Regions from separate parts of the Homo sapiens genome. Here regions 2, 3, 4, 5, 6 and 7 are each linked to region 1. Evidence: fine-mapped expression QTL. A gene starts in region 1. Each other region holds a variant in brackets. All regions are shown on one strand. Distances are from middle to middle. Region 1 holds the start of TDRP (testis development related protein). Region 2 has its middle 4.3 kb from the start of FAM87A. Region 3 overlaps TDRP (testis development related protein). Region 4 has its middle 33 kb from the start of TDRP. Region 5 has its middle 61 kb from the start of TDRP. Region 6 has its middle 53 kb from the start of TDRP. Region 7 holds the start of LOC124902051 (a long non-coding RNA gene).

What was found. PIP is the estimated chance that this variant, and not a neighbour inherited with it, causes the effect.
Region 2: its variant is the best candidate, but not a certain one, in a credible set for the expression of TDRP in whole blood (INTERVAL, PIP 0.59).
Region 3: its variant is the best candidate, but not a certain one, in a credible set for the expression of TDRP in whole blood (INTERVAL, PIP 0.60).
Region 4: its variant is the best candidate, but not a certain one, in a credible set for the expression of TDRP in whole blood (TOPMed, PIP 0.61).
Region 5: its variant is the best candidate, but not a certain one, in a credible set for the expression of TDRP in whole blood (INTERVAL, PIP 0.67).
Region 6: its variant is the best candidate, but not a certain one, in a credible set for the expression of TDRP in whole blood (INTERVAL, PIP 0.88).
Region 7: its variant is the best candidate, but not a certain one, in a credible set for the expression of TDRP in testis (GTEx, PIP 0.52).

What each region holds. Positions count from the first base shown.
Region 1 is chr8:542,947-547,099 of GRCh38, reverse strand. TDRP (testis development related protein) reads left to right here and starts at 2,266. Exons shown (of 3, transcript NM_001384899.1): 1 at 2,266-2,450. The coding sequence starts at 2,343. RefSeq lists an enhancer at 787-1,287.
Region 2 is chr8:385,394-389,546 of GRCh38, reverse strand. No RefSeq gene overlaps it. Among named protein-coding and RNA genes, the nearest start is that of FAM87A, 4.3 kb to the right of the region's middle. The variant C/T (reference allele first, on the strand shown) is at 2,284.
Region 3 is chr8:498,492-502,644 of GRCh38, reverse strand. The region is part of intron 1 of TDRP (testis development related protein); the gene reads left to right. Among named protein-coding and RNA genes, the nearest start is that of TDRP, 44 kb to the left of the region's middle. The variant G/A (reference allele first, on the strand shown) is at 1,651.
Region 4 is chr8:576,006-580,158 of GRCh38, reverse strand. No RefSeq gene overlaps it. Among named protein-coding and RNA genes, the nearest start is that of TDRP, 33 kb to the right of the region's middle. RefSeq lists enhancers at 1,745-2,244, 2,245-2,746. The variant C/G (reference allele first, on the strand shown) is at 2,463.
Region 5 is chr8:481,982-486,134 of GRCh38, reverse strand. No RefSeq gene overlaps it. Among named protein-coding and RNA genes, the nearest start is that of TDRP, 61 kb to the left of the region's middle. The variant T/C (reference allele first, on the strand shown) is at 1,966.
Region 6 is chr8:595,796-599,948 of GRCh38, reverse strand. No RefSeq gene overlaps it. Among named protein-coding and RNA genes, the nearest start is that of TDRP, 53 kb to the right of the region's middle. The variant T/C (reference allele first, on the strand shown) is at 1,641.
Region 7 is chr8:205,068-209,220 of GRCh38, reverse strand. LOC124902051 (a long non-coding RNA gene) reads left to right here and starts at 3,941. Exons shown (of 2, transcript XR_007061161.1): 1 at 3,941-4,153. It also overlaps the pseudogene RPL23AP53. RefSeq lists silencers at 1,973-2,195, 2,320-2,399. The variant C/T (reference allele first, on the strand shown) is at 2,453.

The DNA.
Region 1 (4,153 bases):
TTCAGAAGAAAGCTAAATGTCTAAAATATTCAGTAAGTTAGCTTTTTTATTTAGCAAGGCTCACCTTCTTCCAGATTGTCATAGATTTGCAGGGGATTACAGTTTAATGACAATTCATGGAGTGGATGTTGCTAGACTGAGAGGAAGCCAGCTGTCTGGGCATAAGCCCTGTGTTCCTTCGCATTAGCCAGGGGGATTTGTGTTATTTGTCCAAGTGTTCTGAGTTGGTTTTCTGTGTTTTATTTGTAGCGTCTTTATATGGGCTGTGTTTGGATCCTGACTTTGTTTTGCAACCTCTGTTTGATAGTTTTTGACTTTCATCAGTTTGTGCTTGCAATGTGCTTATTTTGACAGCACCCCGGAGCCACACCATGCCATCTTGCATTTGCAATTTTCTAAGCCCCCTAGCCCAGGAGGCCAGGCCTATTAGGCCTTGTTTGAAAAGGAGCATATATACATTTTTAACATTCTTATTATTTGCGTGAAGATGAACTCTCAAATTTAGTTTGTACTGGGTGGAGTGGTCCTTAGTAGGCGCCAGTGTTTAATTCTATTTCGTGATGTTTGCGGCCGGTAGGTTTAGCGGTCACCGGGGGAGGGAGGCATGTGGGAGGGGTGCTGCCCTCCTCTCTGGGTGACGGTATAGTTAGGTTAGTATCGTTAGGTTATTATCTGGCTCTTCCCACTCGGCTGGGGGCTCCTGCCAGGCCCAGCCCCCGCCCTCCCTGTGCGTCCCGCGCCAGGGCCCCAGGTCCCCCCAGGCCTTGGGCACGGGCGCCACCCCCTCGGTTCTCCGGGATCCTGGCCGGCATCTCCCAAAGGCAGTTCAGAGCCCCTTTCATCTTAAAAGCTTTGCTGCTCATCACTTCTGGGAAACTCAAAATGTACATTTCATTTTTTTAAGAGTCGTAAAGTTACGAAGCTTGCAGTTTTCAAGGGAGCTCATAGTTCTGGATCCTCCTTCAAAATGCGCTTTTACATGACTGAACACATGAATACATATTTGGTGTAAGAAGCGATACGAAGCGCGTCGCGGGAAAAATTAACCTGCTGGGCGGGAGCGGACGCCTAGAATCCCCCGTTCCCGCGGCTCCGTCCCGGGATCGGGGGTCGCCTCGCCGGCTCCTTTCGGCCTGGGAACCAGGCGGTTCTGCCCTCAGGAATCTGTGGGCGCCTCTCCCGCTCCTGATTCTGACAAAGCCATAGCCACGCGGGAAAACGTTCTCCGGGCCCTGAGCCCCAACCTGGGCGCCGCGGGGGTCCCAAGGGTTCTGCGCGGCCCGGCACCACGGCCCCATCCCCGCCCCCCACCGCCGTCAGTCCGGGCCGAGCCCGCGGCGCCCCAGGCCCCAGCGGCCCCACCGCCCACCAGGGCTGGGCGAGGCTTCCTCCCGGCGCCCCCACTATCCCGCGACCTCGGGCGCCGGAGGGGATGAGTCCCGGATGCCCGGCGCCCAGGCCCCGAGGGATGCCCTGAAGCGCTGGGGTACAGGCGCCGCTCCGCGGACTGTGCCCCCTCCACCTTCCCCTCAGCCTTGCCGCGGCCTGAGCGCCAGCGGCGCGCATGCGCACTGCGCTCCCGGCCGTTGCCTTGGTGACCCGAGCGGACGTGGCCACGCCCTCCGGCCAGGGTCTGGGAAAGGGTGGGGGGAGGGGGCAGTCCGGGAGTAAGTGGGGGTCGGCGGGGGAGAAGGAGAGAACCGGGAGAGGGGAATTTGCGGGGGCCGGGTGGGGGCTCGGGGGTAGAGGAGGACCCAGGGAACCGGGGATAGGGCAGGGCTAGGGGCTCGGTGGGGGCTCAGGATGGGGGCGTTTCCGGGTGAGGAAGCAGCTAGGGGCGGGTAGGTGGGGGTCAAGGTGGGGGGACCAGGTGACGGGGTAGCCTGGGGTGAGGACGTCGTTCAGTAGAACAGTGAAGGGCGAGGGTCTCGCCGGGGCGGTGGCGGGGACCACACTGGGAGGAGGGGGCCGGGGTTGACCTTTCTGTGGGGGATGGGATTCGGAGCCCCGTCGAATTTGGGGGTGGGTCTGGTCCTGGGGAAGGTTTGGGGGCGGGTCTGGTCTTCGGAAGGGTTTGGGGCGGGCCTGGTCCTGAGGAGGGCTTGGAGCGGGCCTGGTTCTGGGGATGGTTTGGGGGCGGGCCGGGTCCTGGGGAGGGTTTGGGGCGGGCCTGGTGGGGAGGGGGCGGGCCTAGTTCTGGGGGTGCCCCGCCCCCGCCTAGCCCCGCCCGGCCCACTGGGCCCGCGTCCCGCAGGAGCCGCAGGCAGAGCGTCCGGCGGCCGGGAGGGACGCGGAGCCACAGCCCGACGCACGGACGGAGGGACGCCGGAGCCCGCCTGACCATGTGGAAGCTGGGCCGGGGCCGAGTGCTGCTGGACGAGCCCCCCGAGGAGGAGGACGGCCTGCGTGGGGGGCCGCCACCGGCCGCCGCCGCCGCCGCCCAGGCGCAGGTGAGGGGGTGCGCAGGTGGGGAGTGCTAGTAGGCCGGGGGCGCGCAGGTGGAGGGCGAGGGTGGGCGGCGCGCAGGTGGAGGTGCGGGTAGTTGGGGGCACAGTTTGGGCGGGCAGGTGAGGTTGGGGCCGCGTAGCTCCGGGGCGCGGCCCGCTAGGTGCCCGAGTGCGGAGTCGGAGAACTTGACCCGAGGCTCGTCCTGGGCTGAGTTGCCGCTGTGGTCCGCGTGGACCCACTCCCCGCTTAACTGGCCAGGGCTGCCGGCGTTCTCGCCGCTTGCAGGGGACCCAGTGCCCCCTGCACGTGTTACTCGGGGCGCAGTCCCAGGAGAGCGGGGACGCAGTGCGCGCACCCCGCGGCGCGGGCGTCGTGGGCCCGGGACGCAGAGGTCCACGCCGGGTGCTCGCGTCCCGGGTGGAGCTGGCGGAGAAGGCCTGAATCATCGCGCATCCGGACGGCCTCCTCGCGGACACTAAGCAGCTTTGGACGACCGTAGCTCAATGTTAAGTGGGCTAAATGTTTGTTTGCATAACAAGTATTTTCTTAAATTCTTGATTTTTCTGAAGGAAGCCGGCAGAAGTCCTTTGTACTGAAAACTGAAAGGCCTTTACCTGACGAGTGTAGAGATATGTTTGGTATGTCTAGAATTTTGTAATTGAAAGGGCTCCCAGGTGGGCCCTGTGTGCCTTAGACGTGCCCTCCCCCACCCCCTCCCCCCCCCTCCCTTTTTCCATTGCAGTGCTCTTTTTCATGTACAATGAAATTTAGGTCAGAAATCCAGCATTCTGGATCATAAAATATCTCTTTCTGTTAAACGTGTGGCAACTTCCTCCTGATGCTGTTAAGGCCGAATGGAATATAAGGATTTGTACCTGTCTTCCGAGGACTTGGAAATAGTTTCTGAGCAGAAGAGTTTCTCTTAGGGTCTGGAGTTGTTTCTTCTTGATAGAGATTTTCTATGAACGTTAAATTCCATTCCTAACTCATGGAAAATGGAGCCGATTATGTTAAGCGCTTAAATATGGTTACTATCTGAACTTGTCTGAGAAATTTCTTTTAGGTAGCGTTAGTGCTTACGTGCCTTTTTTTTTTTTAATTTCAGAATGTTATAGTTACTCTAAACAGCTCTCTTCTTGAATGTAATGATGAGAATTTATATGTGGCTACAGAGTTAACTGCAGAAGCTACAAATAACTAATATTGGTCAAAGATGAGCCATATTATTGTTTCTGGATAGAGCCTTGAGAATTTTAAACTGAGTCTTCCTATGTTCTCCCATTTTTCCTAATGAATCCTGAAACCCACTTTTTTTTCTTAAGTTTTTATTTTTTATTTTGAGACAGGGTCTTGCCCCGTTTACTAGGCTGGAGTGCAGTGGCGCAATCTCGGCTCACTACGGCCTCAACCTGCCTGGGCTCAAGCTATTCTCCTCTCTCAGCCTCTGTAGTAGCTGGGACTACAAGTGCGCACCACCTCACCTGGCTAATTTTAAAAAACCGTTTTTGTGGAAATGGGGTCTTGCTATGTTGTCCAGGCAGATCTGAAACTCCTGGGCTCACGTGATCCGCCCGCCTCAGCCTCCCAAGGTACTAGGATCACAGGCGTGAGTCACCACGCCTGGCCTTAAGTTCTTACTTTGAAAAATTTCTAACATGCGGAAAAGTAGAAGAATAGGAGATTCTTCCTCGTATCCTCCAGCTAG
Region 2 (4,153 bases), 160 kb after region 1:
GGGAAGAGGGTTCCTGCCTCATTCCACCCTCAAAAGGATACTTTAGATAAATAGAAGCCTAGGTGTGAACAGCCAAAAACTAGTAGAATGAAACAGACCAGATGGATTTTGGGTTAACCAGCACTGTGAGAACAGGAAGGAGCAGAGTCGTCAATGCAGGTCAGTGCCCGTCACATCAGTAACATGCTCAAAAGACAGGTTTATGTCACGGATAAATGCAAATATACAGGTATGTGAAACTTAAAAAACAGTCATATAAAAATACAAACCAAATACCTCAAACTGGCCGCCCCGGGTGGGAGAGGCTTCAACTGTGTTGTTTTAAGGATCCTTCTACCTCGCCAGAGTCCTTTCCAAAGGACTAGAAACCAACGTGGCAAAATATTTTGTTAATTCTGGTTGTGGGAATATGACTGTTTTATAAAATTATTTGTACATTTTTTTTGTCTTTAAAATGTTTCAAGCCTGGGCGCAGTGGCTCACACCTGTAATCCCAGCACTCTGGGAGGCTGAGGCAGGTGGATCACAAGGTCAGGAGATCGAGACCATCCTGGCTAACATGGTGAAACCCCATCTCTACTAAAAATACAAATAATTAGCCGGACGTGGTGGCACACACCTGTAGCCCCAGCTACTCAAGAGGCAGAGGTGGGAGAATCACCTGAACCCGGAAGGCGGAGGTTGCAGTGAGCCGAGATTGTGCCACTATGCTCCAGCCTGGTGACAGACTGAGACTCCATCTCAAAAAACAAACAAACAAACAAAAATCAAAACTGAAAAGGGCAAAGAAGGAAGAAATCCAAAGAAACAACAAAATCGCTCCAAAGTAAGAGTCCAGTTAAGCCCTTCTAGGGAAAAGAACTGAAGGGTGTAAGGGCCCAGGGGCAGTTTGCGGAGTGAGGGAAGAATGAGCTATGATGGCTCAGGAAATAAATGCAAGAGGAAAACCTTCCAGATGTAAACATGTTAGCTGACAGAGAAGCTCAAACAAGTAGAATAAATTGACGGGAAACAGTCCTTGACGCGTGGAACAGATCTGAGGAAGTCACACAGGATGACACGAAAAACAGCAATGCGACTGCAGTGACCTCAGAGAAGATGGTAGCTGTAGAGATGACGGAAGATAGCATGGGTGCAGTTGGTGCTCTTAAAGAAGACTGAAGAAATAAAAAAAAATGAAAGAGCTGAGAACACAAAGCGTCTTTAAAAAAATGAAACATTTGTACCTGTTTATCTTCTGTTCCAAGAAAAAAAGTGATAAAGATCGATATCGTAAAATACCTTGACTTGTAACCAGACCTCAAGGACAAAGGCATCTTTTGGTAGCTCGAGGAAAAGAAAATCTATAAAGGCAGGAGAGGTATGGGCCCTGAAAAAGCTTTCTCTTCAGAAAACTCCAACTTACTGTTTCAACTTCATAACGTTTACATTCTCTTTATTTATAATGCTCACATTGGTTGAGTCTTAGTTTCTCTGTTGAAGTGAAATTTTTTTTTTTTTGAGACGGAGTTTCGCTCGTTGCCCAGGCTGGAGTGCAATGGCTTGATCTCGGCTCACCGCAACCTCTGCCTCTCGGGTTCAAGCGATTCTCCTGCTTCAGCCTCCCGAGTAGCTGGGACTACAGGCATGGGCCACCATGCCCGGCTAATTTTGTATTTTTAGTAGAGACGGGGTTTCTCCATGTTGGTCAGGCTGGTCTCAAACTCCCGCCCTCAGGGGATCCGCCTGTCTTGGCCTCCCAAAGTGCTGGGATTACAGGTGGGAGCCACTGCGCCCAGCCTGTTGAAGTAAATTTTAACTTTGCCACCCTTTTTCTTGGCGTATTTCTTTGGTTGATTTTTGTCGTTATTGTTTGGATGGATCTTCCTTGAGTTTTTGATGACTTGAGAAAGATTGTCAGTTGCCTTTTTACTTAAAGGCAAATGTGGCTGGCTAGGAGAGGACCACATCCGCTTCCCTCGGGACCCCACAGAAGTGGACGTCTCGGGCTCCAGGGAGGCTGAGTCCGAGGCTGGCCCGGCTCTCCTCCACACCCCTGTGCTTACTCTTTCTCAAAGGACGTTGACACGTTTGCTTTTCTGCTATGTTTCATTTTCAGTGTTCTGCTTCAAATGCAAGCATCTGCGTTTATGTTCAGGCATGCTCTGTATATCTGGGTCTTCCGAGGTCTCCTAACTCCGCTGCGTAGAAGGGCCTCTGCGTGGACGTGTCCCACACCAGAGCTTGTGTAGGGTGGGGCAGACGCAGCAGAAAAGCCTCACGGTTTCCTGTGTTTTCCAAACA[C/T]GGCTTTTCCTCCCAGCCTCCTGAGTTGTTGTTTTGTTCTTTTAATTTACTTCGGGTGACTTTTCGTTTTCTTTTTTTTCAGATCATCTTTGTTCAAGAAGTATCATAATGAAACCAAACATATTTTTTCTTTTCTTTTTTTTTTGTTTTTGAGACGGAGTCTCGCTCTGTCGCCCAGGCTGGAGTGCAGTGGCGCAATCTTGGCTCACTGCAACCTCCGGCTCCCGGGTTCAAGCGATTCCCCTGCCTCAGCCTCCCGAGTAGCCGGGACTACAGGCGCCCGCCACCACGCCTGGCTAATTTTTTTTTGTATTTTTAGTAAAGACGGGATCTCACCGTGTTAGCCAGGATGGTCTTGATCTCCTGACCTGGTGGTCCGCCCGCCTCAGCCTCCCAAAGTGCTGGGATTGCAGGCGTGAGCCACTGTGCCCGGCCCGAACATATTTTTTCCTAGGAATTACAGCTGAACACGTTCTTTCTTCGTCTTTTTTGACTGCTAACAAAGAAAACTGTGGTCAGGTGCAGTCGCTCACTCCTGCAATCCCAGAACTTTGGGAGGTCTAGGTGGGAGGACTGCTTGAGCCCAGAGGTTAGAGACCACCCTTGGCAATGCGACGAGACCCTATCTCTACAAAATTTAAAAAAATAGCCAGGTGTGGTGGTGCATGCTTGTGGTCCCAGTTACTTAGGAGGCTGAGGTGGGAGAATTGCTTGAGCCTGGGAGGTCAAGGGTGCAGTGAGCCATGATCACCAATGAACGCACTCCGGCCTGGGCGACAGAGTGAGATCCCCTCTCTAAATAAATAAATAGGAAGAATAAGAAATAAATTCAAATAATTAGTAGACATATGTGTTTGACCTCCACTTTCTGGCCTCCACATAGACTGCGCTCTGTGTGTATAGTGTCCTCAGGCCAGAGGCTGGGCGGGGACCAAGCCTGGGTGCAGGAAAAGGAGTAAGGCCTGCACTTGTGCCCAAGAACGAAGGGTCTGAGGCACCTGGACCCTGGGCAGAGGTTCAAGGGCAGGTCTGAAGTGAGGGCTGCGGCATGGACGCGGTGGGAGAAAGTCCTCTTTGAGGACCATGGAGGCAGCCTGGGGGCCAGAGAGCGGTCCCCTGCCCCTGGGGGCAGCTCAGGCTGCTTCCCAACCAGGCAGAATCTGCTTCTGAGCAGCTTCACTCTGCCCTACACGCAGTCCTATGGGTCACACCCGGCATCTCGGTGCTGGGGGCATCCCGGGGCTGCTCCGCCTCATCTTTCATTAAGGACAGGCCTGGACCTGGACCGGCCGCCTCACTGATGGCCCCAGCGCCGCTTAGCAGCCAGGGAGAGAGCCAGACTCTATGCAGCCTTGTTGGGACTGCGTCCACTCTGTGTGGAAAGATCAAACGTTTATTTCAGAAACTTTGTTTATATTTGTCATGTATCATAGTGTAATGTATGCTACATTTTATGTGTGTCCCATACCTGTGTGTGTCACATAATGCATGTGCCACAGGTATCCAGGTGTTATGTGTGCATGTCACATATGTGTGTCATATATGTAATACACATGCATGTGTTGTGCACGTGTCACATGTGTGTCGTCGATGTGCAGGTGTCATGTATCTGTGTGGGACCATTCCCTTGTGCCCTCGTTGCTGCGCTGGTCTCCAAGGAAATTTCTCTCACCTCTTTTCTCTTCTCGACGCCATGTCCCGGAGTTGAGGATCTTCCAGCGTGACCCCAAGGAGGCTTTTCGAGCTCTGTGTCCCGGGCTCCAGTGTCTTCGAGGGGACAACACTGGCTTTGTGTTTTCTCATCTATGGCCTTTCTTCTACACAGTATTGCAGTAACGCTCTCCTTTATCTCTTTCCAGCATCTGGTGTG
Region 3 (4,153 bases), 44 kb after region 1:
ATTGGTTCCAGTGTGTGGCTCTGGATTCCATGTTGACACGTGCTGAGGTAGGCGTAGGTCCCACTGCATGGCTCTGGGTTCCATGTTTGTGTGTGCTGAGGTATGCCTAGGTCACCCGAGCTAGTTTTTTGAGTCAGACTGTGTTCAGGCAGGCTGGGGGTCAGATCAGCAGCCCCTCTGGTGGGAGCCTGGTCTCGCTATGGCCGCCTAGCCCCACCACACCCTGAAGGGTCGTTGGCCTGGCACCCTGCAATTTGGTGAACACGGCTGCGGGCCTTCCTGTGGCCTGATGGGTCTCATCTGATGACTGTGGGATTTGGTCTCACAGTTTGACTTGGATGTCAGGACTGGGTTCATCAACCAATGTTTTCCAGAATGGCCAGTTTCTCAATAGCTTCAGTGTGTTTAAAGATAAGTTCACTGTGAGTTCCCAAATTTAGAAGGGATGAAAGAAGACTAAGCTGTTCTGTGCCTTTTTGTTGTACGTAATTGAAACCTTAGCCTGTTGGGGGCACTGTGTTTTGTGTTCCCAGGATCACAGCATTTTCACAGTATTCAGGAAGGTGGGAGGTGGTAGCCAATGGCGATGCCAAGAAGAGGCCTGGGGCCTGTGCTTTCACTCTTCCCAGAGTCCTCCCTCACCACGTCACCACCCCCAGAACAGCTTTAAGACACTGAATGCCAGCGCTAAGCCTTTGTCCAGAACTGTTCTGGGGGTGGGCTTTGGAGAGGGTGGGTCAGGGTCATGCACAGCTCCTTCCATGTTCCCCTCATCTTCACAAAGAGCTGTATTTCTGGGCCCATGACTGCAGGGACGCCAGTGCCCTGTGGTTGATAACGGCAAACCGTCTGTACTGAGTCCCATGCTGGCCCTGCACATGGTCACCCTGCTGTGATGCAGTGTTCCTGATGAGAAATTGGGATACCTGGCTTAAGAAAGGTTTCTAATTTTTCCTGACCTATGACTTTAAATACCTTTAAAACGTATAGCAGGAAAGGTCCGGGCGCGGTGTCTCACGCCTGTAATCCCAGCACTTTGGGAGGCTGAGGCGGTTGGATCGCTTGAGGGCAGGAGTTCGAGACCAGCCGGGCCAACATAGTGAAACCCTATCTTTACTAAAAATACAAAAATTAGCTGGGTGTGGTGGCCATCGCCTGTAATTCCAGCTACTCAGGAGGCTGAGGCAGGAGAATTGCTTGAACCTGGGAGGTGGATGTTGCAGTGAGCCAAGATCACACCACTGCACTCCAGCCTGGGCAACAGAGAAAGACTCCATCTCAAAAAGACAAAACAAAAGAAGTATACCAGGAAATTTGCTTTATAATGAAATACTAAAATTACATGGACTCTGGACTGAACTGGTAGGTGCAGGTTATGTGGCATGCAGTGAGCTGACCCGAGCATTACGCTCATGTTTTTTTTGTTTGTTTGTTTTTTTGAGATGGAGTCTCACTCTGTCGCCCAGGCTGGAGTGCAGTGGCGCGATCTCAGCTCACTGCAAGCTCCACCTCCTCGGGTTCACGCCATTCTCCTGCCTCAGCCTCCAGAGTAGCTGGGACTACAGGCGCCCGCCATCACGCCCGGCTAATTTTTGTATTTTTAGTAGAGACGGGGTTTCACCGTGTTAGCCAGGATGGTCTCGATCTCCT[G/A]ACCTTGTGATCCACCCACCTTGGCCTCCCAGAGTGCTGGGATTACAGGTGTGAGACACCGCGCCCGGCCTGCTCATGTTCTTGTTAACCCTCTTGCTGGATTCTGTCCTTCACAGGTACTGTGGTGTAACACTTCCTGGTCTTGCCCACATTACTGGGTTGGTCTTAGGTGTCACTGTTCAGCCTTGCTGTGCTATTTCCTGCCCTGGTTGTCAGGACCCAGAGTTGCAGGGAGCAGCCTGGAGGCTTTCTCCCAGGGCCGGAGTCCGATACACCTGCCCTTCCTGTGGCAAAAGGAGAAATTTCCATCTGCTTTATTGGGATAATTCAGAACTTAATGCTTGAATTTTACATTTAATGAAAAATAGGAGAAAACGCAAATGACACTGTATCTTGGACATTTTGTTTAAGATTTCAAGATTACAAATTGTGAGATTAAGTATGAAGGATGGCACTTCTGAGAGTGTCACTTGGTTAGATGAGGATCTCTTTTCTGATTACAGGAGGTGAAGATTGGCAGGTTCAGTTCTTCTAAACAAGGCCTTCAGGGTTGCCACACCCAAGCTCTGTGCTCATGGACAGGATCTGGACGTGCGCACTGGTGGGGCCTGCCGATGAGGTTTATTGCTCCCTGTGTATTCAATGCCAGCCAGAGGTCCTGGCCTCTCTGCACATTTTTGATAAGACACTGCCGTTTAACCTAACAGGAATAATTTTGGTAAATTATGGATATTAATTTTCTTTACAATATTGCATAGATTTTCTTCATGAAACATGAAGCACTTTTTTACAACTAAGGTATAGCTAAAACAGGAAAAATAATTTTTCGTTGTTTTGTGCAGGAACTTACTTTCTCATTTCTGTGGCCTAACTTCTTGGTCATTACCAGCGTTTTACGGCACATCTCATCTGTCTTCATTGTTTTGGATGTCACTTTCTCTCTGAATTGAATCCTAGTTTTAAGAATGTTTTACCATCATTCTTCTTGGTCCTCAAGAGGTGTTTAGGTTTTTTCTGCCTTCCCATAGAACACTCTACAGGGCTTTTCCCGTGGAAGAGGAGAACTTTCTTCATGCCCCATACCATGAGCAGCACTTAGGCTGTCGCCACCTAAGATTTTGTCCACCTCAGGACAATGTCCATGTCCTTCCTGGGCCCTTCAGGAACTCCACCTCAAGGGCCAGCCTTGCTGGCTACAGGAGCAGAGTGCTCAGGTGAGGACTTTCCCTCCTGTCCTTCCCGGGGGATGCTCAGAGGGAAATGTGGGAGACTTCAGGTGAAGACCGAGATATCTGGTTTTGATGGATTCTTTCTGCCCGCATAGTGGATGAGTGGAGGAGTGGCCTCACAGCACTCCTCACGCTCACACTTCGATCATGTCTGTTTGTGCACCTTCTAGGACTCCAACCTCTTCTAATTGCTCACCTGGCAGTAGAGAGGGATTCCCTTACTTGTTCTCCATGGAGGTGCATGTTAGAGCAGGGGCTCAGGAAGCTGGTGGTGGGATGGAGTCCCAGCTCCAGGGTCATCTGATGGGATGTGCAGCAGCCACCCAGGTGCTACAGGGACAGTGGTGTGGTTAGTGGAGACCACACAACTGGAAATGTGGGTTCTACTGCCAGCCCAGCGTGGTGTTCAAAGGGTGGAATTCCTGGAAAATTGTATGCAGAAATGGGAGATTAAGGCATTCTTGTAAGGAAGTAGGCCAGGCCACCAGCCTGGGTAACAGAGAGACCCTGCCTCCAAAAACAAAACAAAACAAAACAAAAACGTTGTTTGAAGTTCATAAACTAGAGACTATTTTTTTGGCATCTTATTCCTAATAATTTCAATGGAAACACTAGGTAATAATTTATATTTCAATAATTCTCATTTCCTGTTGATTTTCCTTATGATACCAGAAATGGAATCTTAGGGGAATCACCTTGTATTAGTCCATTTACACACTGCTGTAAAGAACTACCTGAGACTGGGTAATTTATAAAGAAAAGAGGTTTAATTGACTCACAGTTCCATGTGGCTGGGGAGGCCTCAGGAAACTTACGTAAGGAGGTGAAGGGAAAACAAGGCACATCTTACTTGGTGGCAGGAGAGAGAGAGAGAGAGAGAACAGGGAGGTGCCACACACTTTTAAATGATCAGATCTTGTGAGAACTCACTATCACAAGAACAGCAAGGGGGAAATCCGCTTCCATGATCCAGTCACGTCCCACCAGGTCCCTTCCCTGACATGTGGGGATTATAGTTTGACACAAAATTTGGGTGGGGACACAGAGACAAACCACATCATTCTGCTCCTGGCCCCTCCCAAATGTAATGTTCTTCTTACATTTCAAAACCAGTCATGCCTTCCCAACAATCCCCCAAAATCTTAACTCATTCCAGCATTAACTCAAAAGTCAAATCCAAAGTCTCATCTGAGACAAGGTAAGTAGTCTCATCTAAGACAAGGTAAGTCCCTTCTGCCTATAAGCCTGTAAAATCAAAAACAAGTTAGTTACTT
Region 4 (4,153 bases), 33 kb before region 1:
TCATAACCTCAAAGTTACTGCAAAGGAGAGAAATGCAGATGAAAACAGTGAGACACCACTTTACACCCACGTGTCTTGAAAAGCCCGTAAAGTCAAGCCCTGAATGCTGGTGAGCACAGTGGAGCGGCAGCACATCCGGCATGTGGGCGGCGGTCAGGTGGGAAGCATGGGCAGGTGCCGCGTGGCAAGCGGGTCCCCCGCAGCAGTGAGAGGCAACCTGCAGGCTCCCACAGCACCACGGACAGATACGCCAAGCGGAATGGAGAGAACAGAGTTAGAAGACAGTGGAGTTGAGAGCCCAGTGCTGCTCACAACACACCCAGGCACGAACACTGCAAAGCCACTCATCAAACGCTTCCTGAACCTGCACTTAGCCTGGGATGTGGGTGACCAGGCAGCGAATGGGACACTGAGTTCCCAGCCTGCAGTGTTGACAGGAGCACAGGTGAGCACAGGGCCAAGCACACAGGGACTGAGACATGAGGAGGGAGTACAGGCAGCCCAGGTGAGGCTGCACCAGCAAGTGAGGAGAGGCTTCTGGGGAGCACCACGGAGTGCCCTGAGTGGCCCTCAGACAGGAGGAGTAAACACACAGGACCAGGACCACCATGCCTGACGGGCCTCAGGCAGTGCATCTATGGACGGAGCCTCCCCACAACTGACACGCTATGCCTGAGTGACCCCCGCCATGCTGACTGGCATGTTGAGACCCTCAATGGCACTGCCACTCATGTCACCGGAGGGCACCTCCATCACCTGTGCCCAGCTGGGCTCCGTGCTGGGGGTGGTACTGAGTCCTGGGCCCTCTGGGAGCCGACTCTGGCACTCAAGCACACGTGAGCCGGCATGCTGGTGTCATGAGGAAGCCATCACCTGGCCCCGACCAGACATGGCCCGGTCACTCTGGGGCTTATATCCCTTCAGCGGGGACATAGAGATGCCAAGTCCATGCTCCCAACCAGGGACCAGGTGAGGGACACAGCGTTCGGTGCATGGCACCAAGGTACCTGGCACCGTCATGTCCTTGGTCCCATGTGCTGTGGGGAAGTAGCGTCCACACCATGGAGGGAGGGGTCCCAAGCAGACCCATGTCTTGAGCTGAGTCATTGTCCACACTGCCAGGGCCACAGGGCCCCATGGATCCACTCTCCTTGCTGGAGTCTCTGCTTGGGGCTGTGGCAGATGCTCTTCTGAGGCTCGGTAGCTGCTCCCTGAGAGGAGCGGCTGTGCCAGCAGCATCAGAGCTCAAGGTCGCTTGGGTTAGAGCTGCATTCCACGGGCTGCTGTCCTGTGTCTTTGCCAATCCCATTTCCATTAGTGTCTGCTGCACTCCACAGCCCTGTGCCCATCAGAGGCCTTCGGTCGCCTCACGAAGGACCCTGAGGAAGTGCAGGGCGATGGCAACCACGGAGCCACAGTGGCTGTTTCTAACTGCTCCAGCCACGGGGCGCTTTGAGGCCACACGGCCCACGCTTCTCCAACGGAAGAGACCAAAACTAGGAGGGGAAGGACCATGATTCAAGATACAGTGTGGTCTGGGCAGCGAATGTGTTTGTTAGCAAGGTCCAGTTCGGGAGAGGAACGATTTTTACCTGAGTTTAGTACCCACAGCTGGAAATGTGGGTGTTCATGGCGAGGCAGCCATGTGCTGCCACTTCACCTGCCGAGGGACAGGGGTCTGGAACGATGCCTTGAACAGTCTCCTGTGGACTTCAGCAAACCTGGCGGGGTGTTTGGTGGGAGGGCAGGGGCGGGGGTGCACCCAGCATGGTCTATGCCTGGTCTCCAGCGCTCAGTGTCATAGAGGACATCTGGTGACTTTCCAACTCGTTACGATCAATTTTCCTTCAATAGCCACAACGAAGCTGTTAAGCCCCAGAGGATGATCCTGGCAGCTTGTGGCACTTTGGGCTTTAAAATCAGTCACATATCCCAGTGGCTTTCACAGTAATTTAAAGGACTGTGCCGAGGAAAGTGTTTTGACGACACATGAAACATGTTCCTAGCCACATGTCTCCCGGGTCCTCGGATCTGGGGGCGAGAAAAGCATCTGGGCTTGGGTGGTCCTGACCACGCCCGCCGGCCATCGCACGCTGTGAGTCCCCTGCAAGGTTGCAGACGATTCTGTCCTCATACTACGGGAGACAACTCACCCCTGCTGCATGAGGTGGGTGCCCCTGGCCCACAAACAGCCACAAACAGGCACAGCGATCAATGTGGTCTGTGCCACGTGGTTTTCACAGGAGTCCCCAGGCCAAGCTCCCAGGCGGTGTCAGGACCTGAAGAAGGATCTGAGCCCAGGGATGCCTGGCGCAGGAAGCAGGACCACAGTGTCCCAGAGGACTTGCGGGTTAAGTGATGCGGGCCCTGCCCTCTTCTATGGGCCTCCTTTCACTCAAGTTCAGAAGAAAAGAGTGGCCCAGCAAAGTCCAGGGATTGGCTGGGCTTGGACTGCCCAGGTC[C/G]TGTGTCAGCCTCTGAAGCTGGGAATGGTACCACTCAGGGAGGGCTGAGGAGGGTCAGGGAGGGGCATCAGGTGCTCCCTGGAAGGGGGACAAGTGCAGTTGGCAAATCACCAAGAGCCTAGGGTGGCAGCAGGGCTGCCTGGGAGCTGGCTGGGCTCCTGACCACGGAGCCTCCGACCCTGGCCACAGCCCACAGAGTCGGCCTCACCCAAGACAGAGCCATCGAAGGCCTTCCATGGGGATCTTCTGGCCAGAACGTCCAGGAACAAAGGAAACACAACCTGCCATTTGGGCCCTGGGTCTCTAAGGCTGTGAGCCCAGAGCTCTGCCATGGGAGAATGCTGGCGGCCTGCGGAAATGGGCAGGAGCAAGATGGAGAGAGCCAGGCTGGCCCCTTCGCTGGCGTCCAGCCTACTTTGTTCTTTCCTTCATGGGCTTTTCAGGTTTTCAGGTTGAAATAATTTCCAGTGTATGGAGAAAGTACAGGAATAACAAAGATAATTCCTGTTTGCCAATTATACCCTCAACCCAGATTCACCGACCTCTAAACTGTTGCCCTGTGACTTCTCGTCCCTCCGCCCATGCCTACCTCTCTTCCAGCCCTGCCACCTGCCCTCCTTCCGCTTCCCAGCTCATCCGTTTATCATCTATCATCTATCATCCATCACTGTATCTGGCAGAGACTCACAGGCAGGCCAGGGAGTGAAAATGGGAGACGGTCCTGCAGGATTGCGGGGGGCACACTGTGCTTTCTCTGGTTGATCTTAAATTATAAGTAGGAGAAAAACCAGGGAAGGCGGCTGGGCACAGTGGCTCACTCCTGTAATCTCAGCACTTTGGGAGGCTGAGGTGGGCAGATTGCTTGATGTCAGGAGTTTGAGACCAGTTTGGCCAACATGGTGAAATCTTGTCTTTACTAAAAATCCAAAACTTAGCTGGGCATGGTGGCATGCGCCCATAATCCCAGCTACTCGGGAGACTGAGGCAGGTGAATCGCTTGGACCTGGGAGGTGGAGGTTGCAGTGAGCCGAGATCACACCACTGCACTCCAGCCTGAACAACAGAGTGAAACTCCATCTCAAAAAAAAAAAAAATCCGGGAAGGTGTTGGTTATGAGTCAAGTCCTGGCCTCATGGGGCAGCGACTGCTACGGGGTCACTGTTTGGCCTCCTGGACTCGCTCCTGGAGCAGTGGCCACCCCCTCGCCATGGCCAGCTCCAGTGCAGGGCCTATGCTGGTCCTCGTCAGGGTTGGAGTGGCTCCTTCCCACGTCCGTCCGGGAATAGGAAACCAACCCGGTGGGGCTTAGCATGCGTTGGGGCAAGTCAGGCTCCTCATAAACTGTTGTTAATGGATGAGTGACTGATTCAAAAATAATAAATGCGTGCAGAACCCTAAAAAACTGGCCTTTCAGTGAAGGAGTTGTGTCCTCCTTGTGCTCCTTATAGCACTGGCCATGCCGCCGCCCACTGCTGAGTCTGTATTCATGGGGCCTAACTTGGGTATGGTTTCTTCCAAAATAATATTCATGCTCTCGTCTCAGCCACAAAACAGGCCTCTGAGGTTTCTTTTTCTACAGCCGCACTTTTAGTAACAGTTAGGCCAACACCAGAACATACAATTCTCCCTCCTGTTAGGGAAGTGCCAGCTGGCGGCAAGAGGACCCTGTTCCACCAAAAACTTTAGCAAGT
Region 5 (4,153 bases), 61 kb after region 1:
AAGCCAGTTTTTCTTGGCAATCTGTATTTTTTAACACAAGACAGTCTGACATTAGCGCACTGGTGTTGGCGGCCTCTGATAAGGCAAAGCCACCTTTTGCTGCTGTGTTGCCGCAAGAACACGGGTCATCTGGTGATGCGGACACGTTCCCGTTGGAGCTGGAGCGTGTCCCCCTCGCTGCTGTGAAGAAGCACAGTAAGATATGTGATAAATGATAAATTTTAATAGTTATGTTTAAATGAAAGAATGGGGTGAATTTTACCTCTGTTTTTAATGTTTCTGGAGTATGTCAAAAAATACTAGAAAGGAGTACTGACTATTCACAAACACAGTGCTTGTATACCTGTGGTGCTTCCTAGACATGCCATTGCTGTCTCAGCAGCTCCACCTCGGATCGCGGGGAAGCGAGGCAGCAACTGGAAGCCTGGGGTCCTGCTGGTGCCATCTCTGAAGCGCCTCTGCCTCTCACGCGGGTGTCCTGCTCTCTGGCTGCGTGCGTGTATCCTGTTCCTCCTCAAGGTGCAGCCTCCATGTGGGCATCGTGGGAAGTCAATGTTTACCAAACTGTGAAGCGGGCACAGCCTGGGGTGGAGTCAGTTCAGTGCAGTTCAGGCACAGAGGGGACCTCTTGCCAGGCAGGAATGTTGCAGTGTCTGGGGCTTTCTACTCCACTGGGTTGAAAGCCTTAGGAGGTGTCAAGTCCGTCTCTTTCCTTCTCAACTTGAGCACGGTGAGCTGAAAATGCACCCCTTGCTGACCGCCCCACTCCCTCCGCAGGTGAAAGCCATTGGCCTCCCAGAATGTCAAGCTATTAAATTTAGGCAATGACTTGGCACAGTGAAAGGCTGGGGTGGGAGGGAGGTAAACAAAACAAAATCAGTTCACTTCCCCTGAGGAAGTAAACTATTTTTGATTGAATTAATATATTTCAGTTCCCTGAGGTGGAAAACTCCAGCTCATACAGCCAGCTGTGTTTGAGGATTCAACTAAACTTTCTGCCAAAAAACCTCAGCTCAGAAATAAAACTAGAAGTGAGCACAATGAAACTTTAAGTACTTCTTATTTAGGTTATGTACTTGTTATTAGATTATTAAAAAATGACCTAATTTTTAAACAGTGACAAGTGGCAGGGCTGCCTGACCACGTTGCCTCCCTGTTCCTGTGGGCTTTGGAGGAGGCTCGGCTGCCTCTGCTGCTGCAGTCGGCTGGGAGGGGCTCAGGCGACATCTGTCTGAGCTCCTGTTGCTGTTTAGGGAGGGGGCAGGTGGCAGGGCTTAGAGCAGCCACACCAGCCTGCGGCCTGGCCTTACTGGGCCCCAGCAGGCGTTGACGCCTACCTGCGCCACACCCGTCAGACACCTGTGCTTTGCCCTTGCCTCCCTCTGGGGCCTTAGCACAGTCCTGCAATGCCGGCATTGCTGTGCCCATTTTATAGATGCTGAGTGAGGTCCAAGAGTCCCGCTCTTAAACGCCTGGAATGAGTTTGTTCTGTGGCAGGTGGAATGACACCAGATGATGGGAGACTGCAGACTGAGGTGCGGAGGAAGGGCAACCTTCATTCAGTTGTGGGTATTTATGCAGCATTTCCCAGGAATGAGGCAAAGTATCACAGGTGCAGGGAAGCTCACACAGACCACCAGGGACAGCCTGCTGAGGACAGACAGGCTCGAGGCCAAGGCCACGTCCCCAGAGTCTCGGCAGGAAAGGGGCATGCCTGCACCAGGTCTGAGCCACTGTGACAGCGTTGGGGCTCCCTTGTGGAAGGCGCCACCTGCCACCATGACCTCTGGCATTTCCCTAGGGAGGTCCCCCTCTGGTGTGGGGTGTGGGGTCAGATGCTGAAGTTGGGATCTTTGCACCAAGGCAGACAGCCGTTTGGCCTTGAGCTTGTTTTGAAGTTGCTGGGCCCTGATGGGGTTTGGTGCTGTGTGGTTCTGGGGAGTCTTTGTCAAGTCTGGGCGTCCC[T/C]TGGCTGGATGGGTGGCATCCCTCATAAGGTGTGTGGTGGCCCGAGTTCCGTCTCAGGAGGCCGTGGCCTGTGCCAGCAACACGAGTGCAGCCTGGGCGACTCCCTACTCTGGGCCTCTGGTGATCTGAGCTGTGCTCTGCGGGATCCACTTGTGGGCCCGGCCTCAGCCTGGCCTGACTGCAGCATGTTCTATTAAGTATTCAAAACACGATCAGCTTGAAGGCACATCCTCCCCAACCCTTGCCTGCTGCTGAGGTCGGGGTCTGGGGTGCTCTTGGTGGAGGAGATGCAGCTTTCAGGCCTGCATCCCAGCTCTGCATGCAGCCCCTGCCACCTCCCACCCAAGTGCCAGGAAGCCACTTTGTCTCCCTCCATTCTACATGAAAGCACCTTCCCAAAGCTTCTCTAGTGTTTCAGGGTCTTGGCCCAGGGTGGTGCTTCCACTGGGACATGGTCCCCAGGGTTTGTAGGGCCCAGGTTTGGGTCCCGTGCCGGCTGCCACCCAGCCCCAGATACCACGGCTGCTTCCTGTGCAGCCACCGCATGACAGCCCCCCTCACAAGATGCCCACAGGAGATGCCCGTGTGACAGCTGCACTGGCTCCTTCCATGGCTGAGCACTGGGCCCAGGGAGCAGAAGGCACTGGAAGCAGAAGGGAGGAGCCCTGCCCTGGCAGCATGTGCCAGTGGGGTTCTGAAATGCCCTCCCGTTTACATGAGAAAAGTCGGGGGGTGTGGTTGGTGTGGGCCTTCTGAACTTCAGTTCTTGGATTTCTCATTTTTGTAACGCGAGTGCTATCTATGCTATAACATTCTTAATACTCTTTAAAATTGATTCACTTTAAAGAATTGCTTGCTGAGGAAGCTGGTGGGTGAGGACAGGGTTGCGGATGGTGGGAGGCCCTGTGAGGAGGGGCGAGGGGCTTCAGGGCTGGAACTGCCGAACAGCCAGTGGAGGGGCCAAACCTGGGGAGCGTGGGGCAACTCGTGTGGGAGGTGTTCTCGGGCAGGCTCACCTGCAGCGTCTTTAAGCATGCGCTTTCATAGAATCCTCTTGCAGATCCTGGGGCACCTGTGCCGCCAAGAGTCCTGCTCACCTGGCTGGCTCCTTGGTGCCCTGACCCATGGCTCTTCTCACCTGTGTGCCACCCCCAAGAGGCTTCTTCTTTCTTCTGAAACAGGCCCTCATCTGTGAACCACTGTCCATTGTGGTCCCCTCCTGTTCATTTTGTTCATTTTCTGCTCTTCTCTTGCTTGTTTCTCCCTTGACGCCATAAAGTCAATTTCTCGGTCTAAATCCTGGTTCTCAACCCTAGAGAGGATCAATGTCCCCATATCAACAGGAAGTAGAGCCAGTGACATTTCTACCTCACCCAGAGTGAGGACCAGGTTGGTTGTGTGAGGTGAAGCAGAGCTCTTGCGGGGGGCTAGTGTCATACCCCTAACCCCGCCTTCCATTAAGGCCAAAGCTGGGCCCTGCGGGGCTTTGTCCCATGGCCAGACGTTTTCATCAGAATTAGGTGCTGTTTTCTTCATTGTGTGGAGAGTGGATTTGATGGAAGAAGGTCATGTAATTGGGGGAGGGGGGAGCCAAGTCTCTAGACAGAGTAGGAAAACTAGTGGGGTATTGAGTTTTGGAGACATTTCTAGGGCAACAAGGTATCTTTAGGAATTTGGTCCATGGCAGCCTTGGGCAGATGTTTAAAAAAACAGACTTGTACCTGGAATTCGCTTTTAAAGTCTGCCAGCTGCCCAGGGTCATAGGTTCATTTGCCCAGGCTCCTGCATATTCTAATTTTATCCACTGAGGCCCAGGACACATGGAGTCTCTGCTCAGTCTCTATCCTTAGAAGGAAGCTTCAAGCCGGGCTGTCAGAGCCGACGGTAAACACATGATGAATGTCCCCGCCGCCCTGAACCGTCTTCCTGAGATTCTGTGTGCCTGCCCACTCTTCCTTGCAGAGTCTGAAAGTGCATTGCAGCGTGTTCCTCCGGCTCCCAGAATCGGACATCCGTTTCATCTTGGAGGAGCACATCCTGAATAAAGGTTATTCTAATTTTAACAGCAGCAAATGCTAAGCTCAATGGTGAACTAGAAGGGCCATCTCCCAGCAAAGCCTAATGCATCTTAGGAATGTGTGACCATTTATTTTTTGTTTTTATTAAAAAACCTTTTTAGAGACAGGGT
Region 6 (4,153 bases), 53 kb before region 1:
TGCTGCAGGAGCCACCTTGCTCCCTGCCTCGTGTAGCTTATGGCCTATGGTTCGTTTTATTTTAATTTTATTTATTCAACAAACATTCCTAAGGTTTACAGTTTGCTGAGAGCATGTTTGGTTTACAGAGACAAGTAAGAGGCTTTCCTGTTCAGGGACTCAGCATCTGAGCAGACACTGGGTGCTCTAAAGTGGCACTGCTGAGTGCATGTCTGGGAAGTGCCTGTGAGTTCAGCGAATCCAGCAGGGCTGTCTCGGTTGCCCTCAGACCGAGAACCTGTGACACTGGTGGGGTGAGGAATGAGCCGTGGCCACTGCCGAAAACTCTGTCGGCTCCTAGATAAGTCCCACCGAAGGGGCATTGGTGACCTCCTTGGTGCCACAGAATCTCCTGCTCCAGCCCTGCTGTAGACCTGTGGCTCTAGGTTACTTGCTTTATTATGACCCGTTGCCCTCAGCTGCCTTCAACCTCTCGGTAGGTGAGTGTCATGTTCTGTTCATTTCTGCAACCCAAGTACCAGGTGTAGCACCTGGTGTGTGGCAGATGCTTTGTAGATGTTTGCTGGACTCCTAAAAGCAGCATTGCGTCGGGTGGATTGTGGAGCCCATGGCACATGTGGATTGCACGGTGCTCTCCACCCTAAAGCAGTGGTCCCCAAGCTTTGTGGCACCAGGGACCAGTTTCATGGAAGACAATTTTTCTATGGACCTGGTGGTGGGGGGATGCTTTCAGGATGATTCAAGCACATTATCTTTATTGTGTACTTTATTTCTATTATTATTACATTATAATATAATTATACAAGTCATCTCATGTAGAATCAGTGGGAACTCTGAGCTTGTTTTTCTGCAACTAGAGGGTCCCATCTGAGGGTGATGAGAGACAGTGACAGATCATCAGGCATTAGGTTCTCATAAGGAGCATGCAACTTAGATCCTTCCTGTGCACAGTTCACAATAGGGTTTGTGCTCCCATGAGAATCTAATGCCACCACTACTCTGAGAGGAGAGAGCTCAACTGGTAACATGGGCAATGGGGAACAGCTGGAAATACAGATGAAGCTTTGTTCACTCACCTGTCACTCACCTGCTGTGTGGCCCAGTTCCTTACAGGCAACAGACCAGTACTGGTCCATGACCCGGGGGTTGGGGATCCCCGATCTGATGTCCCCTGCAGTGCTCTGATCAGTGGAACTGGCTTGGTGACAGAGACAGTTGTACAGAGGCACTTAAAAATATCCAAATAGAGAATAAAGCATTTCTCATCACTTGTGGTTAAAAGTGGCTGTTTCCAGGTGATAGGTTGTTTGGCTTGGAAGAGAGTCTGGTACCCAGCCCAGGCCTTCCCGTGGGACCTTCAGGAGAGAGAAGGCCCCATCCCAGAGTGTGCCTCATTGAACAAGGATTTTGAGGAATGGCAGCTGCAGGAGAAGCTCTAAGAAGTCGCCCTTTTGGAAGGGGAATTTACCTCTGTGAAGGAATCTCTACCTGCCGGGTGTCTCCTCTGGGATCCAGGAAGAAGAGGGAAACTCAGTTACAAGAGACACTTGTTGAGGAGAAAGCTCTATTACAAGCCCACAGCAAGTTGTGGCCTTGGTCACCTGCCTTTCTGGTCACCTCCCCGTTGCCGGCCACCCCCA[T/C]CTTCTTTCTTTATTTTAGTTGAAGATAAGCTAGGGTTCTGGGCCACCTCCTGCAGATTTGTGCGTCTTCCCCTGGAGTTTGCCACCCACGCATGAGGTGTGTGGATTAATAAACTTCTGTTTTTCTCTTGTTCATCTGCCATGGGTTACAGGCGTCCAGTTTTTCTTCTCCTACAGGGAAACAATTTGCTCCACTGGGAAGAGGGGAAAAGGCCACAGAAAGGCAAGTTGACCAGAAGACCCCTCACAGCGTCCCCTTATCATCACCTCCTCTGCCTCTAGGGAAGTCTTGGGGGCTGGTGGTGCATTGGCTAGGTGCAGAGGCAATGGCTACAGGCTGGGACCACTGTGGAAGCCCCCAGACTGAAGCCCCACTGCCTGATCTCATCATCCTTTGCATCACTCTGTGACCTATGACTTTGACCCTCTCTCCTAACTGGCCTGGCCTGGTGGGAGCAGGAGCCACTTATTTAGGTCTAAGGACTGCAAGCTCTAGGGCTTTGCAGATGCAGGCAGATTTGGGGCCTGAGCAGGGGCAGGAATGAACTTGGAACATAACCCTCAGAAGTTCTGAGGTAGTCCTGGCCATGGGGTCCATGCAAGGACTACATCCCGCAGCTTTCCGCTTTCCAGTCTGCCGTCAGTGCCCACACATGGTTCAGGAGGTGGAAATCATGAGATGACACCGTGTCTGTGCACGCGGCTCTGGTTCTGCTCAAGGCTTATAGTATTGCTCATGGAAACAGAGGATGCTGGAAACGAGGGTCTGGTTTTGCAGCAGAACCACAGCATCTGGGGGCGAGTGTGGGGGCTCAGGCCGTGTCCAACCAGCTGGCCCCTGTAGCAGGCCCTCCCTAGCCTCTAGCCTCTGGGGACTTTAGGACCTAATGGAAACTTTTCTTGACACAGCTCTAAGTTGGTCAGCTCAGTCTCTTTCTGCAATTCCCAAATTGCAGTCTGTGTGTAGTGAAAACTACCAGCAAAATAAAAAGCAACGTGTCCTCTACTCATAATTATTTTTTAAAATAAAATTTCAGAAACTGATTATTGAAATTTTATAAGCTGCATCTGCTTCAAATTCCAGTTAAGCCCAGTAGCCCTGCTCTGTTTTACACATCAACACCCAAATTATTTGTTGCTATTTAAAACGTAACTTTCTACATATTTTTAAGGCTTTACTTGTAAATTTTATTGCACTTGTATATGTAAAATTCTTAAACGGCTAAGAGCAGGTACTACACTTGGTCTTGGCCAAAAGGGCAAGAATCACTGCTTGCAAAGCTTTTAAGAGCCAGCATTACTGCCTGGTTTGTGGTGAAAGCGGCTTCCTTATTCCACCCTCGGTCCTTGCGGCTGTCACTCTGTCTCTTGGTGTTTGCCTCCTGTGAAAGAACATGCTTGTGTCTCATGTTTATTTTGGGGCTCATCTATTGATTTCCTTCAATGATGGGGGAGGAGCTAACCTTTCTGCTAAGCACATGCATGCACCCACAATCTCTGCACCCCCTTCTCCTCCAATGCGATAGCCACACTCTGTGGCGACCTCAGTATTCCAGGTTGCCATCCTGTGATCACGCAGAGCTTATTCTCAGCTGAGCTGTGTAATTGTAAAATGATTAAGTTTCCCTTCATGCACTCCGTTTCCTCTGGGGTTAGAAGCTGTTGCATTTTAGTTGTTATTTCCTTAGACTTCTAGGAAGGGACCACTGTTCTAGCCACATACTTCCTAACGGAAATAAGAAAGACCCTTGGACGATCAGGCACATCGAAGGTCCAGCCATGGCGTCCCTGAGGCCCCCACTGCCTCAGCTCCTAAGGCTCTGGCCACATTTCCCTGTGTCTCCCTGCTCCTCACCTTCAGGGCTGCCTGAGTTACCCTGTGTGGAAGGAACCCTTTGAGACCTGCAATGTCTGGAGACGTCGCCATTCTCTCCTTGACCTTTTCTTTCTGGGACCAGGATTCTAGGCTGCAAGAAATGTCTCTCAGAACTGAGAAGGCTTCACTTCCCGCCCTGCAGACTCCAGCGTTCTGTAGGGAGGTCTCAGCCATTCCAGTTCTGCCACGAGAGTGCTGGGGCCTGTGGCTCTGGCCCCTGGGCTGCTGGTGAGCTCTGCCTGAAGTGTCTCAGCAATGAGGATGTGGATGACACAGGTGTTTTTACTCTGTTCTTTCATGCATGCGCTACTCTCTCAATCTGGGCTCCTGTCTGCAGTTCTGGACCACTTGTTTGAGTTATTTCTTTGCTGGTCTCTCCTGTCTGACCTCTCTGGTCTCTCTTCTCATTAAGTGGGTATTGGAATTTCTGGGTTGATTCTCTATTTCTTTTTTCATTCCTCCCTAATTCTTCATCTGTGCATCTTTTTATTCTGTTTCTGTGAGATGTAAATGAGTCTAATATTCAACATTTCTATTAAATTATTTATGTCTATTCTACTTTTAATTGAAAGATTCTGTGTGTAGTTTTGCGGTGTCTGCTCTTATTTCACGGCCACCCTGTTTCTCTGCGAATATC
Region 7 (4,153 bases), 340 kb after region 1:
CTGACAGATTAAAATGAGAAAAACAGAAAAGTTGAAAAACACGTATACCTTATGGTTACATGGGAGATATTCAGGGAAAAATGAGTAAATCTCCAACAGGTGGCTTTCAATTCAAGCATAAATACTGTCTTCAACTTAAAGAAAGAAGATTTGAGGTGCAGTATTGGGGAGTTAACCAGCAAAAGCACATTAGACAAGGGTAAGGTTCATTATACAGACTTAAGTCCATGCATTCTCCATTGATAAGACTCTTTAGTGATTTAGTTATCCTTCTCTTCTTGGTGTCGAGAGAGGTAGCTTTTAAATGGTGATTTCCTTTATAGATGTAAATTTTCCTTACACAAGTGTAACTTCTCTGTTTTCACAACTTCCTTTGTTAGCATTTTTTTTTTTCAAAATAATTAGCTTGGAATAATTCTTAAGCCAAAGGGACATATTTTGGGGTTGCATATTCTGGTTTCCTACCATTATATTTTGGGGTGGCATATTTTGGTCTTATACACTGTGTTCCACCGGCAATGAAAAGAGTTCTTGTTTTTCCTCCAGCAATTTGTCATTTGTTAAAGAGTTTAGCAGTTCTAAGAGATATAGACCAGCTGTGCTATCTTTTTGTGGTTTTCAGTTCTCTAGTATGTTGAGCATCTTTTTGTAAGTGTACTTGCCATCTGTAGATCTTCTTTGGTGAGGCGTCTGTTCAGATCTGTGTGCATTTTTAATTGGGCTGTTTAACTTATTGTTTAGTTTTAACAATTTTTTATGTATTTTGAATACAAATTCTCAGATCTGTATTTTGCAAATATTTTCTTCAATATGTGGCTTGTCTTTTGGTTCTCTTAACAAGGTCTCTTCCAGAGTATAAACTGTAAATATTAAGAAATCCACATTGTCATTTCTTCTGTGTATATCAACCTTCTGTGTCATTTGTTAAAATTCATCACCAAACGCAAAGGCACATAGCTTTTCTTCTATAGTTTCTTCTAGAAATTGTATAGTTTTGCATTTTTAGTGTAAGGATGATTTTGAGTGGTTATTTGTGTAAGTTGTAAAGTTTTCATCTACATGCATATGATTTCTTATGGTTTCCAATTAATCATTCCCTCACTATTTTTGGGAAAGACACAGGATAGTGGGCTCTGTTAGAGTAGATAGCTAGCTAGACGTGAACAGGAGGGGGAGCTCCTGGAAAAGGGAAAGTCTGTGAAGGCTCACCTGGAGGGACCACCAAAAATGCACATATTAGTAGCATCTCCAGTGCTGGAGTGGATGGGCACTTGTCAATTGTGCTTAGGAGGGAGAAGAGGTACCTACACAGAAACACCCTAGAACTTCTCTTAAGATGCCCCAATCATCATTCACTGCAATAAAAATGTCAGAATATTGCTAGCTACATGCTGATAAGAAGGACAAAGGGGACATTCCTAAGAGAAACCTGGCACCATAAGTACAGATTAGGGCAGAGAAAGACATTCAAAAGAGGCAGGTGCAGTAGATACAAACGTGACTGCTGTCAGCCTGCCTGGGATGGCGGGAAGGAGGTTGGTGCCAGAGTGGATTCAGATTCATCACCCCACGTGTACCTCAATCAACAGGAGGTCCCACAAGCCTAAGTGGGGCAAGTCAGGGACCTAAGGCAGTAGCAGGAAAACCAAGGAAAACAAGCATAGACTTGAGACAGAGGCAGGAATGTGAAGAAGTCCAAAATAAAATTCCCTGCACAGGACTCTTAGGCTGTTTTCATGCACTATGAACCCACTCCTCCCTATTTTCCTACAATAAGCTCTTTACACTGTATTTCTTTTCAATGAAGTTATCTTCCATCTTTGTACTGCCTCTTGGTGAAAATCTTTCTTCCAAGTTAATAACTGGGACATCAGCTCTCCCCAGTAATAGCTCCTTTTCAGTTTTCATTTACAGAACTGATGGGGATTAATAACTGGCGCTCTGACTTTAAGTGGTGCAGGAGGCGGCCAGTAGGGGACGCCAGCCGTCACACCGGGAGCAAGAGGGCCCTGCTTAGTCCCCATCTGCCTGCATGTGGCGTGCAGCCACGACAGTGTCAGCAAGAGGGCCCGGCAGTGTCCCTAGCTGCCAGCAGGGGGCGAACAACGACTACACTGTGAGCAAGAGGGCCCTGCAGTGTCCTTAGCTGCCAGGAGGTGGCGTAGGGGCACCACACCATGAACAAGAGGACCGTGCAGTGCCCTGGTTGCCAGCAGGGGGCGTGCTGCCACTACACTGAGCAAGAGGATCCTGTAGTGCCCCCAGCGGACAGAAGAGGGCGTGCCCCGACTACACTGCAAGCAAGAGGGCCCGGCAGTGTCCCCAGCTGCCAGCAGGGGAGCAGCCGCCACTACACTTGGAGCAAGAGGGCCCGGCAGTGTCCCCAGCTGCCAGCAGGCGGGTGTGCTGCCACTACAATGTGAGCAAGAGGGCCCTGCAATGTCCCTAGCTG[C/T]CAGCAGGCGGCGTGCCGCCAGTATACTGCGAGCAAGAGAGCCCTGCCGTGCCCCGTCGCCAGCAGGAGGCGCTGGACACCACTGTAAGGAAGAGGGCCCTGAAGTTGCCCTAGTTGCCAGCAGGGGGCGCAATGGCACAGCACCGTGGGCAAGCAGGTCCTGTAGTGCCCGGGTACAAGCAGGGGGCACCCGAACCGGGCTTTTCAGATTACTCAGGTTCCACCCGTCTGTGCGCTGCGCCGCCGGGGACGTGTGTCTCTGCGCCTGCACCTCGCCATTCCCGCGCTCCCCGCCCGGCGGCGTGCAACTGTACACCTGCAACACGCCCCGCCATCCTGAGCCCAGCGACGTGCGTCTCTGCGCCTGCGCCTGCGCCGCGCCTCACTCCCGCCCGCCCAGCGACCCCTCCCCTCCGGGGACGCGGAGGCGTGCGTCTATGCCCTGCGCCGCGTCTCCCGAACAGCTCCTGCGCCGGCGCGCCGCGCCTCTCTGCGCCAGCGCCGGCGCGCCGTGCCTTTGCGAGAGCGGAGTTGGGTTCTCCTCAGCACAGACGCGGAGAGCATCGCGAGGGCGGAGCTGCGTTCTCATCTGCACAGATTTCAGTGGTACTGCGAAGGCGGAGCAGAGTTCTCCTCAGGTCAGACCCGGGCGGGCGGGCTGAGGGCACCGCGAGGGCGGAGCTGCGTTCTGCTTAGCACAGACCTGGGGGACACCGTAAAGGTGGAGCAGCATTCTCCTAAGCACAGACGTTGGGGGCACTGCCTGGCTTTGGGACAACTCGGGGCCGCATCGACGGTGAATAAAATCTTTCCCGGTTGCAGCCGTTAATAATCAAGGTCAGAGACCAGTTAGAACGGTTCAGTGTGGAAAACGGGAAACCAAAAGCCCCTCTGAATCCTGCGCACCGAGATTCTCCCAAGTCAAGGCGAGGGGCTGCATTGCAGGGGCCAACTGCAGTGTCGGAACACAAATGCAGCATTCCTAATGCACACATGACACCCAAAATATAATACCCACATTGCTCATGTGGTTTAGGGTTAGGGTGAGGGTTAGGGGTTAGGGGTTAGGGTTGGGGTTGGGGTAGGGTTAGGGTTAAGGGTTAGGGTTAGGGGTTAGGGTTAGGGGTTAGGGTTAGGGTTCGGGTTCGGGTTCGGGCTAGGGGTAGGGTTAGGGTTAGGGGTTAGGGTTTAGGGTTAGGGGTCGGGGTCAGGGTCGGGTTGGGGTTGGGGTTGGGTTTAGGGTTGGGGTTGGGGTTAGGGGTTAGGGGTTAGGGATAGGGGTTAGGGGTTAGGGTTAGGGGTTAGGGTTAGGGTTAGGGTTAGGGTTAGGAGTTAGGGGTTAGGAGTTAGGTTTAGGTTTAGGGGCTAGGGTTAGGTTTGGGTTAGGGTTGGGTTAGGGGCTAGGGTTAGGGTTAGGGTTGGGTTATGGTTAGGGTTGGGTTAGGGTTAGGGTTTGGGTTAGGATTAGGGTTAGGGGTTAGGGTTAGGGTTAGGATTAGGGGTGAGAGTTAGGGTTACGGTACTGTAAATAATTTCACATTATTACTAATAATAAATTATTATTTGTATTACACTGTTACGTAATGTAAACGCTATTAAGACATGTTTTTCTTCAAAGAATGGCCTTGGTTTCTGTGGGCTGTGCCTCGTCATGGAAGGGTAATGCATTCCTGCTAAATCATGGACAAAACGGGCTTCCAG